2 linked regions of the Homo sapiens genome follow. The protein of the gene in region 2 interacts with the protein of the main gene of each other region in a biochemical or structural test. Each region holds a gene or a part of one and is shown on either strand. Other genes may lie near its edges.

What was found. The genes of interacting proteins can lie anywhere in the genome.
Region 1: the proteins of VCP (region 2) and HTT form a complex in vitro, tested with the Homo sapiens proteins (3 studies listed by BioGRID).

What each region holds. Positions count from the first base shown.
Region 1 is NC_000004.12:3,241,569-3,244,457, forward strand, and holds the end of HTT (huntingtin), read left to right. Parts: 3' UTR 1-2,389; downstream 2,390-2,889.
Region 2 is NC_000009.12:35,059,126-35,062,625, forward strand, and holds part of VCP (transitional endoplasmic reticulum ATPase), read right to left. Parts: intron 3,226-3,500; coding exon 3,092-3,225; intron 3,014-3,091; coding exon 2,878-3,013; intron 2,565-2,877; coding exon 2,452-2,564; intron 2,055-2,451; coding exon 1,890-2,054; intron 1,799-1,889; coding exon 1,676-1,798; intron 1,401-1,675; coding exon 1,188-1,400; intron 677-1,187; coding exon 368-676; intron 95-367; coding exon 1-94. UniProt on the Homo sapiens protein: Necessary for the fragmentation of Golgi stacks during mitosis and for their reassembly after mitosis. Involved in the formation of the transitional endoplasmic reticulum (tER).

The sequences.
Region 1 (2,889 bases), on a different chromosome or scaffold from region 2:
TGGCTTGGTTTGGTCATGCCCGTCGATGTTTTGGGTATTGAATGTGGTAAGTGGAGGAAATGTTGGAACTCTGTGCAGGTGCTGCCTTGAGACCCCCAAGCTTCCACCTGTCCCTCTCCTATGTGGCAGCTGGGGAGCAGCTGAGATGTGGACTTGTATGCTGCCCACATACGTGAGGGGGAGCTGAAAGGGAGCCCCTCCTCTGAGCAGCCTCTGCCAGGCCTGTATGAGGCTTTTCCCACCAGCTCCCAACAGAGGCCTCCCCCAGCCAGGACCACCTCGTCCTCGTGGCGGGGCAGCAGGAGCGGTAGAAAGGGGTCCGATGTTTGAGGAGGCCCTTAAGGGAAGCTACTGAATTATAACACGTAAGAAAATCACCATTCCGTATTGGTTGGGGGCTCCTGTTTCTCATCCTAGCTTTTTCCTGGAAAGCCCGCTAGAAGGTTTGGGAACGAGGGGAAAGTTCTCAGAACTGTTGGCTGCTCCCCACCCGCCTCCCGCCTCCCCCGCAGGTTATGTCAGCAGCTCTGAGACAGCAGTATCACAGGCCAGATGTTGTTCCTGGCTAGATGTTTACATTTGTAAGAAATAACACTGTGAATGTAAAACAGAGCCATTCCCTTGGAATGCATATCGCTGGGCTCAACATAGAGTTTGTCTTCCTCTTGTTTACGACGTGATCTAAACCAGTCCTTAGCAAGGGGCTCAGAACACCCCGCTCTGGCAGTAGGTGTCCCCCACCCCCAAAGACCTGCCTGTGTGCTCCGGAGATGAATATGAGCTCATTAGTAAAAATGACTTCACCCACGCATATACATAAAGTATCCATGCATGTGCATATAGACACATCTATAATTTTACACACACACCTCTCAAGACGGAGATGCATGGCCTCTAAGAGTGCCCGTGTCGGTTCTTCCTGGAAGTTGACTTTCCTTAGACCCGCCAGGTCAAGTTAGCCGCGTGACGGACATCCAGGCGTGGGACGTGGTCAGGGCAGGGCTCATTCATTGCCCACTAGGATCCCACTGGCGAAGATGGTCTCCATATCAGCTCTCTGCAGAAGGGAGGAAGACTTTATCATGTTCCTAAAAATCTGTGGCAAGCACCCATCGTATTATCCAAATTTTGTTGCAAATGTGATTAATTTGGTTGTCAAGTTTTGGGGGTGGGCTGTGGGGAGATTGCTTTTGTTTTCCTGCTGGTAATATCGGGAAAGATTTTAATGAAACCAGGGTAGAATTGTTTGGCAATGCACTGAAGCGTGTTTCTTTCCCAAAATGTGCCTCCCTTCCGCTGCGGGCCCAGCTGAGTCTATGTAGGTGATGTTTCCAGCTGCCAAGTGCTCTTTGTTACTGTCCACCCTCATTTCTGCCAGCGCATGTGTCCTTTCAAGGGGAAAATGTGAAGCTGAACCCCCTCCAGACACCCAGAATGTAGCATCTGAGAAGGCCCTGTGCCCTAAAGGACACCCCTCGCCCCCATCTTCATGGAGGGGGTCATTTCAGAGCCCTCGGAGCCAATGAACAGCTCCTCCTCTTGGAGCTGAGATGAGCCCCACGTGGAGCTCGGGACGGATAGTAGACAGCAATAACTCGGTGTGTGGCCGCCTGGCAGGTGGAACTTCCTCCCGTTGCGGGGTGGAGTGAGGTTAGTTCTGTGTGTCTGGTGGGTGGAGTCAGGCTTCTCTTGCTACCTGTGAGCATCCTTCCCAGCAGACATCCTCATCGGGCTTTGTCCCTCCCCCGCTTCCTCCCTCTGCGGGGAGGACCCGGGACCACAGCTGCTGGCCAGGGTAGACTTGGAGCTGTCCTCCAGAGGGGTCACGTGTAGGAGTGAGAAGAAGGAAGATCTTGAGAGCTGCTGAGGGACCTTGGAGAGCTCAGGATGGCTCAGACGAGGACACTCGCTTGCCGGGCCTGGGCCTCCTGGGAAGGAGGGAGCTGCTCAGAATGCCGCATGACAACTGAAGGCAACCTGGAAGGTTCAGGGGCCGCTCTTCCCCCATGTGCCTGTCACGCTCTGGTGCAGTCAAAGGAACGCCTTCCCCTCAGTTGTTTCTAAGAGCAGAGTCTCCCGCTGCAATCTGGGTGGTAACTGCCAGCCTTGGAGGATCGTGGCCAACGTGGACCTGCCTACGGAGGGTGGGCTCTGACCCAAGTGGGGCCTCCTTGTCCAGGTCTCACTGCTTTGCACCGTGGTCAGAGGGACTGTCAGCTGAGCTTGAGCTCCCCTGGAGCCAGCAGGGCTGTGATGGGCGAGTCCCGGAGCCCCACCCAGACCTGAATGCTTCTGAGAGCAAAGGGAAGGACTGACGAGAGATGTATATTTAATTTTTTAACTGCTGCAAACATTGTACATCCAAATTAAAGGAAAAAAATGGAAACCATCAGTTGTTGCTGTGTGAGGCTTGCTTTGCTTCATGAGAACCTAGACCTTGCTGAGCTGGAGTCTTAGGAAGCAGTCTCCTAAGTGCTTCTCCAGCAGGGGCAGAAACTGTCCCACCAGCTAACATCTGGCATTATGGAGGGTCCCCCAGGCAGCTGCCAGCAGGGACAGGCCCCGTGTTTTCTGTAGCCAGGGATGAGGAAGTGGCCCCAGGGCATGGGCCTGGCTGGGTGCTTCTGCAAGGGCCTTCCCAAACCACAGTACAGGTGGTCTTCCTGCCCTGCAGATGGGAGCTGTGGGAGCTGCTGGAGCTGCTGGAGCCTTCATGGTCAAGTGACATCATAAGCTTATATGACATACACAAGCCTCAGGACTTGGCCCATGGCACTGAAGCAGGTCATCAGGCCCAGCACAGAGACTAGAGCTGTGTTCTCACAGGGCCCACCACCCTTCCACCTCCTTGGCCATTGACACCTGCGTCCCTGGCCCAGCTGCTCCCAG
Region 2 (3,500 bases):
GGATGGCCAGCTTGCAAGCACGCTGGCAAATCTCTGTCAGGTCAGCTCCAGAGAAGCCATTAGTCATTTTAGCCAGGAACTCCAAGTCCACATCCTAAAAGCAGCAGCAGAGGTACCTTAGCATTTAGCCTCTCCTCTCGAGATACGCAGATCTTTGGGCTACCCGAGCACTCCCAACTACAGTTTGCCCCTTCTTTGGCCACCCCATTTTATTCCTGATTCTAGATTATCTTGATATCCTCAAAAATTCTACCTTCCCTTTAGACCAACCCTAACCCCAGTGGAATCTTGTCCAGAAACTAAAGAGCACTCCGTACCAGCCTGAGGACTCATGCAAGTCTCCCACAGCCCATGATCTTGCACCTGCCTTGGCAACTGGGGACTTGCGCAGGTTAGCCTTGAGGATGGCAACACGGGACTTCTCATCAGGAAGTGGGATGTAGATGAGCTGATCAAGACGGCCAGGTCTGAGGATGGCAGGATCAATGATGTCAGGCCGGTTGGTAGCGCCAATGATGAACACATTTTTTTTTGTGGACATGCCATCCATTTCTGTCAGGATCTGGTTGATGACTCGGTCAGCAGCCCCACCACCATCTCCAATGTTACCTCCACGAGCCTTGGCAATCGAATCCAGCTCATCAAAGAATAGCACACAGGGGGCAGCTTGGCGGGCCTGTAGGAGGAATGGATTGATTCAAGCACTAACAAAACTAGATGTCTCTAGGCAAACGTGGTGGCTCACACCTGTATTCCCAGCACTTTGGGAGGCCAAGGTGGGAGGATCACTTGAGGCCAGAAATCCGAAACCAGCATGGGCAACATACTGAGACTTTGTCTCTACAAAAAATAAAAAATTAGCCAGATGTGGTGACGCATGCCTATAGTCCCAGCTACTCAGGAGGCTGAAGTAGGAGAATTGCTTAAGCCCAGGTTTCAAGGTTACAGTGAGCCATGACTGTACCACTGCCCTCCAACCTGGGCAACAGAGCCAGACCCTGTCTCAAGAGAGAGAGAGAGAAAAAAAAAATAACACTAGGTCTCTCAGACCTCAGAAAGAAAATCAAGTGACTTACTGTGCAGTTGAGCAGCCAGCACTAAGAATATTTCAACCCTCTTAAAGAAAAACAGCCTCTATTCCTTGCCCTCAGGCAAATCAATACATAGTTCAGCCTATTGTAGCTCACCTTGTCAAAGATTTCTCTGACATTGGCCTCAGACTCCCCAAACCACATGGTGAGCAGCTCAGGACCCTTGATGGAGATGAAGTTGGCCTGGCATTCATTAGCAATGGCTTTGGCCAACAAAGTTTTCCCACAGCCAGGAGGTCCATAGAACAGAACTCCCTTGGAAGGTGTCATGCCAAACTTCAGGAATTTGTCTGGGTGCTCCACAGGATACTAGGAGGAAAAGGAAAGAGGGTTCAAGGCTACCTCCACATTTTGAAAGAAACCTAACTAAACAGAAGCATCCCCTCCATTATTTCATGGTGTACCCAATGGTATCAGATCCAGGTTCTCTAGAAGAAGACTCCTTAGTGCCTCAAACCTAAGAACAGTAGGTTCCTAAGTCGTGCTCTCACAACTCTTGCAGCAAATGTGTTGACACCCTGAGATCACCCAGATCAATTACAATGTACTGAGACAGTGACTCACCCTGGACCAAGTTGCCCTACCTGGACCAGCTCCTGTAGCTCACGTTTGACATCCTCTAGGCCCCCGATGTCTTCCCAGGTTACCTGTGGCACCTCTACCACGGTTTCCCGCAGTGCTGATGGGTTACTCTGGCTCAAGGCCCACTAGAAAAGGAGGGAAAACTGGGGATGAGACTTATCAAGGGAGGGGTCAAAGCACGTATGTGTGTACCTGAGGCACGGGTGTGGTCCTTACCCGGAAGTCATCCATAGTAACTGCTAGAGAGTTCATGACCTCGGCATCAATGGTCTCATCCTCTAGGTCAATGAGATCCATCTTCTTGCGGATGGCTTGCAGAGCAGCCTCTGAGCACAGGGCTGCTAAGTCAGCACCCACATGCCCGTGAGTCTCATTGGCTACCTGCAGAGAAAGATCTACTTACTATGCTGCCTCAAAGACCCAGCTGCTGCAGGAGGCTCAGAGACAATAGAATCCTTCCCCTGACTGCTATCCCTGGGTCCTCTCATTTCCTTGAATATATACTATCAATACCTTTATGGGCTGGGTTTTAAGTACTTAATTCTGGACTTGGGACCTAGAAATAAGGCTGCTCCAACAATTCTGATTTACTCTAAATGCAGCGTCAACTATGAAAAATGCCAACTCCCATTTCCTGGATTCAATCTCAGATTACTTCCTTTCCCCTGTCCAGAAATCAAAACCCATCTCCTCACATCTTAACCTTATGTCTCTAGCCAGTTCCCAGCAACTGCCTAGAGACACTGTAACGCCTGGTCAGCCATCATCATCACTTCACCTGTTCCAGGTCCACATCATCTGCCAGCTTCATGTTCTTGGTATGGATCTGAAGAATCTCTAAGCGTCCTGTAGCATCAGGAATTCCAATATCTACCTCCCTGTCAAAGCGACCTGTGGGACAGTACACAAACATAAACAGGGCTCATCTCTAGTCCAGAGGTAAGAGACAGGCCTAGGGTGACCAACCATCTCAGCCAGCACAGGATTGTCCTAATGCCAGCACTAAAAAAGTCTCAAGCTCTGGGAAACCTTTCAGTCTCAGGAAAACCAGGGTGGTTGGTCACTCTAGACAGGACGTAGGGTAAAGGAAAAAGACCCCTGGACCCAATCACTGTGAAGGGCTTCAAGAGGATTAGGTGACTTAGATGAAGGAGAGAAGTAGGACCTAAGCAAGGACGGGGTCAAAAGTATCTGGAGTCCTTACCAAATCGCCGTAGAGCTGGGTCAATGCTGTTGGGTCTGTTGGTTGCTGCCATAACAATCACATGTGCCCTCTGCTTTAGGCCATCCATGAGGGTCAACAACTGTGATACAATGCGCCGCTCCACCTCGCCATGAGTCTGCCAGAACAGGATGTCTGGTCAGAAGTGAAGTCAGGGCCTTTCAACCCCCCTCTATCCCCTCAGGTAAGCTCCTACTTTCTCTCTTTTGGGAGCGATGGCATCTAGCTCATCAATGAAGATGATGGCAGGAGCATTCTTCTCAGCCTCCTCAAAGGCTTTACGAAGGTTGCTCTCAGACTCACCAGCCAATTTGCTCATGATCTCAGGACCTGAAAGGATACAGAATGGAGACAATAACAAAATGATAGTCTTTCCCAATTCCTCCCAAAAATCAGTTATCTTGCTTGTTTGGCCCAGAGACAGGTCCTGGGTGAGAAGGTGGTAACCTCTGCCTACTTCTCACATCCTCTACCAGCCATTATCCCAGGACAGCCACCAGGCAAGGCTGGAGAGAAGCCCAGGGACTCACTATACTCTTCTCACAGTTGAACTGTAAAGGTGACAGCAAATGCTCTAGGACCTCTGGCTAGAGCAAGAGAGATGG